Regions from separate parts of the Homo sapiens genome. Here region 2 is linked to region 1. A link means that fine-mapping ties the variant in region 1 to the expression of a gene that starts in the linked region. Tissue or cell type: cerebellum. Region 1 holds a variant in brackets; the other region holds the start of a gene. All regions are shown on one strand. Distances are from middle to middle.

Evidence for each region. PIP is the estimated chance that this variant, and not a neighbour inherited with it, causes the effect.
Region 2: it holds the start of DGCR2, and the variant in region 1 is fine-mapped to the expression of DGCR2 in cerebellum (GTEx, PIP above 0.99).

Annotation. Positions count from the first base shown.
Region 1 is chr22:20,103,555-20,108,740 of GRCh38, forward strand. DGCR8 (DGCR8 microprocessor complex subunit) reads left to right here. Exons shown (of 14, transcript NM_022720.7): 10 at 2,623-2,723; 11 at 3,038-3,144; 12 at 3,717-3,844. Among named protein-coding and RNA genes, the nearest start is that of MIR6816, 8.6 kb to the right of the region's middle. The variant G/A (reference allele first, on the strand shown) is at 2,890.
Region 2 is chr22:19,120,050-19,125,176 of GRCh38, forward strand. DGCR2 (DiGeorge syndrome critical region gene 2) reads right to left here and starts at 2,363. Exons shown (of 10, transcript NM_005137.3): 1 at 2,079-2,363. The coding sequence starts at 2,157. It also overlaps the pseudogene TSSK1A. RefSeq lists an enhancer at 1,722-2,223 and silencers at 2,008-2,127, 2,248-2,687.

The sequences.
Region 1 (5,186 bases):
CTTGGGCATGGTATATGTTCCTTTTCATGTGTTAATGGCTTTAATTTGCTAGTTCCCTGCTGCATCTGTGTTCTTGGTGTTAAGGTCATGGTACGGGTAGTGTCATCAAGCGAAGTGGGAAGTAGCCCTCCTCCTGAGTTTTTCAGAAGGGCAGGACAGATATAGGATTGGTATCATTTCTTCCTTAAAATTTGGGCCTGGAGTTTTCCTAATGGGAAAGTTTTAAACTACTACTGTATGAACTACTAACTATAACTATGACTACTCTGAACTACTGTTGAGTTTCTTGAACAGGTGTAGGGCTGTTGAGGCTACTGAGATAGTTTGTGTCTTGCCAGGCATTGGTCCATCTCATATAGATAGTGGAATGTAGAGGTGTCGGGCGTCTGTGGTGCTCCCACACGGTCCTTTGGCATCTGCCAGGCACTGATTGCTTAGGTTTCTCCTGTGCTGTTTGTCAGAAGCAACAGGGATTTGTCTGCAGGTCACTTCTGCCATCTGTCTGCTCTCATGAGCTGGAGCCTCCACCTGTCCCTGGCGGGTTAACCCTCAGTAGCACATGTGGCCTCAGGCAGCTTGGTGCAGGGCATCCTGGTGTCGGTCTTTTTTTTTTTTTTTTTTGAGACGGAGTCTCGCTCTGTCGCCCAGGCCGGACTGCGGACTGCAGTGGCGCAATCTTGGCTCACTGCAAGCTCTGCTTCCCGGGTTCACGCCATTCTCCTGCCTCAGCCTCCCGAGTAGCTGGGACTACAGGCGCCTGCCACCGCGCCCGGCTAATTTTTTTTTGTATTTTTAGTAGAGACGGGGTTTCACCTTGTTAGCCAGGATGGTCTCGATCTCCTGACCTCGTGATCCACCCGCCTCGGCCTCCCAAAGTGCTGGGATTACAGGCGTGAGCCACCGCGCCCGGCTGGCGTCGGTCTTTTGCCAGAAACTTCTGAGCGTGCTCTCTAGCTGTGTGTGTGTCAGCCACTGCCTCAGCTTCTCCAGGGCCAGTCCCGAAGCCGTGGGGTATGTGGGTTCTTGTGGGCCGACAGCACTGGACGTTGCTAATTGGTTGGCTGGTTGACAAACCCTTGAGGTTCCAGGGCCTGATGTCTTGGTGAGTGACCTTCCCTGGAAAAAGACCCATGTTGATTTGTGCACTTGAGAGGAGCAGTGTCTTCTGGGGACCTATTTGAAGACAGTAGCCAAGCCATACCTCGAGGATTTTTCGCTTGCCAACCTCAGGGCTAGTGCCTTCCTCTTCTATGCAGTTGCAGCGAGTTGGCCTTGCTGCTTGCTGGAGCGGCGAGGGCAGAGGAGCTGCCCACTGCCCTGTCTGTAGGGCCAGTGTCCCTGTGGAGCGGGCTTGGCACACTGTGGAGCCTGCACAGCGAGGCGTGTGAATCATTTGATTCTAGGTTTCCTCGCTGCCCATGGGCCAGGCAGGCTCCAGGTCCCTGCAGACCCCTCCAGAACAGGGCCAGTGGGGGAAGCACTGTGAGGGTGTGGCTGATGGGTAATCTCCAGTGCTTCAAAGTGTGGTCTTTTTTGGAAAGAGGATGATTGCAGATAGAATTAGGTTAACATGAGATCACACTGAAGCAGAGCAGTGGTGTGATCCAGTGTGTCTGGTGTTTCTCTAAGAAGAGGGAGGAGGGGCAGGGCTAGTAGTCCATATGAAAATCGGAGCAATGCTGCCATAGCCAAGGGATGCCGGGGCCACCAGGAGCTGGCAGAGGCTCCCTAGAGGCTTCTGAAAGAGGATGGCCCTGCTGAGGCCTTGATTTCAGACTTCAGAATGGTGAGAGAATAAACCTCTTGTTCTAAGCCACTGACTTTGTGGTATGTTGTCACAGGAGCTCCACCAGGGAGGTTGTCCATGCTCCAGAGTGGGCTGGATAGCATCTTCCTTTCACCCAGGAGGCACTCTCAGCTTCAGCCAAAGTCCTAGTCTGGGAAGGCACAGTGGGCAATGTCTCTGCACCTCAGCCTGCTGCAGCTTCCCTATGCCTCACTGTGTGGAATCTCCCCATCACCTCTTGTTTCCCTGTCTGCCTCTCTTGTCCTTCCTGTGTGTTCTTGGGTTGGCTGCAGAGCCAGGGTGATGACACTGTTGGAAGCCTTGCTGGGCTGGGCCTCTGCTGGCCACCTGGGGCTGGGCTCTGTGTAGCTGTGTGGGGCTTTGGCCTTTGGGGAGCTGGGCCTTTTAAGGCCAGCTTTTGGGTCTGGCTGACTTTCCCTCTCCTGTAGTCTCAGTTGTGGCAATAGTAAAGCCTCTCTGCAAAGGTGCTTTATCTTTATAGAGTTCTGAGAAGGGTGCCTTATGGATCAGAATCAGATCCAAATAAGGTGGGCCTGGCCAGCCAGCCATGTACCTGGGGCCCTCTTAGGATACCAGACTCCATCCCACAGTGCTCAGGGTGGAAGGGTGCTGTGGGCTCTGGAGATGGGCAACTGGACGGTGAGGTACGGAGCATGTCTTGTACCCGGTGGGTTCCTTGCAGAGTTGAGGTATGAAGTGCTAGGCGAGCTCACAAGAACAGACATTAAGCATCTGGGGAAAGCCAACCGCAGGCCCAGCCATGAAGAGGCCGGTGGGCCTGGTGGGGACTCACAAGCCTCTGCTTTGTGTTGTAGTATTTTAACCACATCAGCATCGAGGACTCGCGGGTCTACGAGCTGACCAGCAAGGCTGGGCTGTTGTCTCCATATCAGATCCTCCACGAGTGCCTTAAAAGGTAGGGTAGGGGGGTGCCTCCCCCCATGAGTCAGGTCGGGGGAGCTCCTCTCTGGCGTCTCATATTCTTGTGGCTGTTTGTCCCAAGGCAGAGGCATGGCCAGGTTTCCCTGGGTACACAGCAGCCCCTTGGCCCTGGCCACCAGTCAGTCCCACAGGCCTGAATC[G/A]GGCGTGTGGAGAATTCCCTCCTCTGGCTGAGATGCAGTCTGGGGAGAGGCTTGGTCATTTCCTAAGGGCTTCCCAGAGCAGGCCTCCTCAGAGGCAGCTGGCTGCTCTGCTCAGGGGACGCCATCTGTTGTCTGTTTTCTCTTAAAGAAACCATGGGATGGGTGACACGTCTATCAAGTTTGAAGTGGTTCCTGGGAAAAACCAGAAGAGTGAATACGTCATGGCGTGTGGCAAGCACACAGTGCGCGGGTGGTGTAAGGACTCCTTCTCTGCTGCCTGGTGGCCGCTGGGCGGGCGGCCCCTGGTGTGGCCCTGCGCCTCTGTGGCTTGGTCTCAGCTGTTGCCCTGGCATTGTCCCTGAGCCCAGCTGTGTGTGCTGGCCACCACACGTTCAGCCTAAGGCGGACTGGCAGCCGTCCTGCCTGCACTTTCCCTGTCTTTTCCCTTTCCCCCGCTGTCACCCCTGTCTCCGTCCAGCCCTTGTCCCTGTGGCAGGAGGAAAGGCCCTCCTCCTCGAACAGCCAGCAGAATCCTGCTGCTCCCTGTTTCTGGAGGTGTGCGTCTTGGCGGGAGGGAGGCTCTCGGCTGCGTGGCTTTGAGTGGTAGTGTCCTCAGCTCCTAGACTCTGAGGGCCACTCTCTCAAGGTGGCAGCTGGGTACTGTGAGACTCAGGTGCCCAGAGCAGTGGCAGAGTGCTGCCTATTCCTGTAGAATGTGCCCTGGCTGGCCCTCGGGGTGTGGGTCAGGAGGGCTGGGAGCGGCAGGGGGCCCCATGAGCACTGGGTGTTTGTGACCCCCTCTCCATGCTTGCTCTTTCTCTGTGTAGGTAAGAACAAGAGAGTTGGAAAGCAGTTAGCCTCACAGAAGATCCTTCAGCTGCTGCACCCACATGTCAAGAACTGGGGGTCTTTACTGCGCATGTATGGCCGTGAGAGCAGCAAGATGGTCAAGCAGGTAACTGGCCATCAGCAGGTCCCAGGGCAGCCTGTGCTGCCACCCTGGAGCGTATTCCTGAGGCTCTGTGCTCAGAGGGGGCAGAGCTGGGCAGCTCTGCTGTTGCTCACAGCTGCCTCTCTCCTGGGCCACTTGTGTGGCTTTGTGGGCAGGGGTGGGGTCGTCCCAGCTACATCTCCTATCCCAGCCTGCTGGGCATGGTCAGTGAAGTGTGGGTGATTGGGAACGCAGGCTGGGCCCAGCTATGTGGCTTGTAGGGAGATGGCCAAAGTGCAAGGCAGGGCCAGGCAGGAGATGCTGAAGGTGCGCCCGGCTCGGAGGTGTGCAAAGGCTCAGGAGCCAGGGCCAGCTCTCCCTGCTTGAAGGAGAGCGAGTGTGTCAGGGTAGCTCTCCCTGGTACCAGTGCCGGTCCATCTCTAACAGAAGAGCATATGTGTACCATCTGTCTTGTTTCTGCTGTTGTGGCCAACATCCTGCAGTGTAAGCCAGTGCCCACTCCTGAGGGGTGGAGGGTAACATGGGGAGGTGAGTGTAATCATTTTCCTCAAATGATTACAGAAACTCTCTGGGTTCTTGCCCTCCTGGTCATTGGAAGGGGAAGTAGTTGTGGAGGGGTTAGGCCTGCAGGTGGGGCAGCCCTAGGACTGTGTGGTGGGTGGGCCCTCTGCCCAAGCCAGCTGCCAAGAGCAGGGCCTGCCTTTAGGTCCCTGAGACCGAGGCCTCGGCACTGTCCCCGAAGAGGCCTTTACTCTGGACATGATAAGGGAGGGTGAGGGGGCTCACACGGGCCACCAGGGCATGTTAAGGAACTTGAGAGAGATTTTTGGGAAGCAAGTTGAAATGTAGGTAGCACTTGCTTCTGCCCTTGCTGTGCATGGTCCTTGGCTGTGACGGAGGGAGAGAAGGCAAGCCCCACTCTGGCCCGGGGGTGGGAAACTTCCCTGAGCAGGAGGGGGAAAGGTCCCAGCCAGGCACAGCCACAGCTTGGGGGAGCTCTGGCATCCCGAGGAACCACAGCACCCTTGGGGCTGGCCTAAGACGGGAAGGGGCTGAGGCCAGCCTGATGCTGCTCTGCATTCATGGAGTGTGCAGAGAGCTCAGTGCCTGAGGCTGATGGGCTGGGCTGCAGCGTGCTGTTCTTACTGGCTATGGCCACACTCTGGTTTCACTCCTTGATGAGGACTCTGGGCACCACGAGCACCTCACCTCCCTACTCTGCCCATGGCAGGAGGCCATATAAGTGGCGTGGTGTGGGCAGAAAGGCCTGGCAGCTATGGACTGCCCCTCGCTCTCTGCTGCTGTCAGTGGGCCTGGCATCACTGAGGCGGGCCAGTCAGCATGC
Region 2 (5,127 bases), 980 kb before region 1:
AAGGACACATGGTGAATGTGTGAAGAGGCACACACGGGCATACAAGGAACACATCAGGCCCAGAGGCCTGCCCTCCCTGCCCAGCCAAAGCCAGGAAGCCAGCTGCAGCTCCCGGGTTCTGCAGGGCAACTCAAGACGCCTCCAGGGGTAGCTGCAATGTTCTCATCTGGAGAGTCATGGAATCGAAAGAATAAGTTTGCTCCCTCTACCAGATCCACCCCACCCATGCCCTACTCCGACCTCAGTGTGAGGTCTCCTGTGACGCCCTCACTGCTTCACAGGTACAAAAAGATGGCCACCTCCACCCACCTCTGGGACCCCACACTCCAGGGTATTCAACACACAGGAGTGTGACAAGTGACTTACACCTGGCCTCTGTTCCACATCAGGCACTCCTAAAAGGAGGGGCTTGTTCTTGTCACTTGGATTCCCTAGGGATGGGCAGGGGGCAAGCACCCACAGGCACTTTCTCAGTTGCTGCTGGCCAGTTGGCAGGCTATGTGAAAAGGCTGGCAAGGAAAAAGGAGTCGGGGACGTCAGTCACCTCTATCACCCAGGCAGGAGATGCTGGGCCTGGAACCAGAGGCACCCCAAAGAAGCCAGGCATAATATGGCCTCACCTGAGCCCGGTGACCTCATCTGCAAAACTGGGACTCAAGAATCAGAAAACGGTGACCTTCTACCTCTCTACACGTACATATATGTTTTCTAAAGAAGTTAATCACAAGAATCCACAAACCCATTGGTTCTGACCTCCAAGAGCCTATATGATACCCTCCTCCACAGGTAGCCCTTTTCCTGGCTTCTGTTCTTACCAAGGCCACCCCACAACTAGTCATCCCGCTGCCCAGAGAGCAGCCAAAAGCAGTGAGCAACTAGCTCTACATGGGGAGACCAGAGAAGCATCACTGAATCTGTCCAGGTTGAGCACCGGTCAGGGCCTTGGCCACCAGGCAGGCACTAGGGAGGAGGCAGACATTCCACATAGATGACACAAGCGCAGAGCCAAGAGGTGCGGTGTATCTGGGCTGGGAGCCTGGCTAGGGCACAGGAGAGGGCCACACACCCCGTGCTCCCACACCCAGGTCATCAGAGAAGATGGCCCTGGCACTTCTGCCTTCATGGGACCTTTCCTCCATTAAGAAATATTAAGAGTCATGCTTTTTCACTGTATTAGTATAAAGATGACTGTATTAATATACATACGAAAACATTTTATTTGACCTAAAAGTTCATTTTTTTTCTGCTGACTTTAAAAAAAAATAAAATAACATTCGAAGGCTACTAAAAGTACCGTGGGCAAGTGATACCAGGATTCCTGTGCCTGATGGATACATCGGCCCTGCATTTAGGGAGTTTGATTTTTTGGTGCAGTTCAAGGGGAGGTACACCGAAATAGGTAGAAAAGGGTCTCCTGGTTGCCACGGTTCTGATTCCCCACCACAGACTTAAGAACACACTAGCTCCGAGGGGAGTTCCAAAGCACGGACTCATTCATCACATACACGCAGCACGGCTAAGGGCCCCGCACAGTGGCGAGGTCTCTGCTCCCGGGACGCTCGCGCCGGCCACACAACGCTAGGCTGACTCCTGGTGCCTCCTCTAGGCCCGGTGGGACCTGAGGACTTCCTTAGCGCAACGTCTCACTGAATGACAGCCACAACCACCGCTGTCCAGGCGAGGAGTTTCCAGGACTGAGAGGCTGGCACTAGGCCACTGCTGGGAGGACGTCTGTGAAACCAGGTGCCCCTGAGAGCCACTGTCCCCAGCCCGACTCCGACGCTGGACTGGCGAGAGGGTGCGCCCGTGGCGTAGCTCCTGGCCGCCGCCGCTCCCGGGAAGGGCCCAGAGGCAACATCCTGGACAGCAGAGCTGCACGAAGTCCGAGGCGCCGCGAGCCCAGGTAAGCTCCAGCAGGCGTCCGCAGAGAGTGCCAGGCGGCCCGCGAGCCAGGCCCCGCCCGCCCCTGCCCCAGGCGCGGCCCCTGCAGGAGGGCGCCGCGGGTGAAAGGAGGTCCCGGGGCGACCCCGGCCCCGCTCGCCGCCCAGCCCCCACACCGCCCCCATCGCGCGGCGCACCTGGCCGCAGCGGCTCGGTGACAGTGAGCACGAGCAGGAAGAGCAGCAGGAAGGCGCCGCTGTCTGCCTTGGGCACCATTTATCCTCCGTTCATCGTCCCCGGGGCGGCTGGAAGGCCGGACCAGGCCGGACTGAGGGTCAGGGGACCGTGCCAAGCGGAGGGTCAGGCGGAGCTGAACCTGGGCGAGGCGCGGAGAGGCGGCGGGAAAGAGCTTCGGCTGGGCCGCGGGCTGGCGCACACTCTCGGCTGCAACCTCAGGCACCGACTCCAGCTGCGCGCAAGATGGCGGCCGTCCTGCTCGGCTCCGCGCCGCGCCGCCCCGCCCCGCCTCCCGCCCGCGACGCAGGCGCGGGCCAATGACCGTCAAGATGGGGGGCGGGGCCAGAGCCAAAGCCCTCCGAAGAGGGTGAGGCCTAAGGTCGCGACGGCGGAGGGCGGGGACCTAAGGGCGGGGACTGAGGGGCGGGCTCTAAGGGAAGGGCGGGACCATACGGAGTGAGGCGTGCCATTGGTTAAGCAGAGAGGCAGGGCCGGGGCCGGGGCCTGAGCGGCGGGGCCACCGAAGGGAGTAGGGTCTCTGGACGCCGGTTAGGGACGGCGGGCGCGGGACGGCAAGGATGGACATCGAAAGGCGCGGGGCATGGGGCGGGGCGCCGAGGGGTCGCGCGGGTGGGGAGCGGAGAGAACGAAGTGGGAACCTGGCTGGGACTCCAAGGGTCTTCACACCTGCAAGCTCAGGTCCCGTGAGCAGCCCAAAAGTGCGCCCCAAAGGGGTCTTTTTAAGGCCGAACCGCTGTGGAGGAGGGAGGGCCTGCCGGTTCTGAGGGTGGGGAAAGAGGAACAGGAATGGCCTAAGAGAGTGTCAGGCAAAGAGAGACCGGGAAGGCCAGGTCCTGGAGACTGCAGCGAAGCCGGCTCCCTGGAGGACCTGCCTACACAATGGCTAGGGGAAGGCCACATGTGCAGGAAAGAAAGCTAGGCAGAGAGGAGGCTCAGCGCCCCTGCGAACAGTGCTCCAAGTGCCACTTCTCCCGTCATCACCAACAGGGTGAACCTTGGAGGGCAGTGTCGGCGAAGAGTCCAACTCTGTAAAATATTTGAAGACATTTCTTCTGAGCCAATATGTGACCAATAGCCTGGGACACAGCCCCAGGAGATCCTGACAAGTGCCCAAGGGGGTAGGGCCACAGCTTGGTTTTATACATTTTAGGGAGACAAGACATCAATCAGCACATGTAAGATATACATTGGTTCAGTCGGAAAAGGCGGGACAACTTGAAAGTGGGGGGTGGAGGGGGGCTTCTAGGTCATGCGGATTGGCAGTTGGTTCAAAGAGTTTATCTAAAGACCTGGAATCAATAAAAGGGACTGTCTACATTAAGGGGTTGTGGAGACCAAGTTTCTTAGGCAAATGAAGCCTCCAGGTATCAGGCTTCACAGAGAAAAGACTGTTAATGTTTCTTATTAAAAAGTGCCAGACTCTGCCGGGTGTGGTGGCTCACGCCTGTCATCCCAGCACTTTGGGAGGCCAAGGCGGGCGGATCACCTGAGGTCAGGAGTTCAAGATCAGCCTGGCCAACATGGTGAAACCACATCTCTACTAAAAATACAAAAGTTACCCAGGCGTGGTGGCACACGCCTGTAATCCCAGCTACTCAGGAGGCTGATGGCAGGAGAATCGCTTGAACCGGGGAGGCAGAGGTTGCAGTGAGCCAAGATCATGCCACTGCACTCCAGCCTGGGCAACAGAGTAAGACTCTGTCTCAAAAAAAAAAAAAAAAAAAAGGAAAAAAAAAAGGAAAAATAAATAAAAGGTGCCAGACTCTAGTTAATTCTCTCAGGAGAAAAGACCTTGAAAGGGATAGGGATTCTCTACAGAATGTAGATTTTCCCCACAAAAAACAGCTTTGCAGAGCGACTTCAAAATATGTGAAAGAAACCTGTTTTGCAGTAAAATATGTGTTTCCTTCCGGGCCTGCTGTCATGCTGGTATCTTACTGCCACAGAGTCTGTTGTCAGTCTTCAAGTCTCTGTGTCGATGTTACACTGCTTAGCTGTGCCTGAAACCTGAAGGGAGGAGGGATAATGAGGCCTGACTCCCACTTCCTATCACGGCCTGAAATAGTTTTTCAGGTTAAGTTTGGAATGCCCTTGGTGGAGAGGAGGGGTCCATTCAGATGGCTGGGGGGTTAGAGTTTTATTTTTGGTTTCCAGGAGACAGTAGTTGGGGTGTCCCCAGCGGGAAGGAGAAGGAGGCTGTCTGGAAGGAGGAGAACCAAGAATGCACAAAGGCCTGGCAGTGGGCAGTCAGCGTTAGGGAAGAAGGTGAAGGAGCAGAGAAAAGGGGGAAGGGCCACGGCAGGTGGGGACCCAACCCAACATGAGTGACAACCAGCCCGCCCTACCAAGTCATCCTGAGGGGCCCAGGGTTCCACTTGGCTCCTGTGAGAAAGGGGTGCTCACTCCCTCTAGGTGGATGAGGCCAAAGTCAAATCCAAGGCTAGGATAGTCATGTGACTCCTACTCCCCTAGGGCATAGCCCGGAACAAGTGCTGGACACAGAGCCTGGCACAGCAGAGGGGCTCCACTGCCAGAAAAAACAATGGCCACACTCTCCAGTGCTGCCCCTGCTGCTTGTACTGTCCTCAGAGCAGCCACCAGTGCTCAGGGTGGCATCCAGTCCCCGCCTTTAGCCCCCAGCCCCAGATCTGCCCTGGGAGCCCAGCCAGGGGCAGAAAAAAAACTAGTTCATTGAGTGCCAGGGAGCCCTGCCCAAGGACATGGCGTGCAAGATGTTCCACCAACTCTCCTCAGCCATTAAATACTGCCACGACCTGGACATCATGCACCAGAACCTCAAGTGTTAGAACCTTCTCCTCGACAAGGACTTCAACATCAAGCTGTTCTACTTCAGGTTCTCCAAGCTCTGCCTGCGGGATGACAGTGGCCAACAGAGATTAAGCAAGAACTTCTGCGGGTTGGTGGCATATGCAGCCCCCGAGCTGCTGCAGGGCATCCCCTACCAGCCCATGGTGTATGACATCTGGA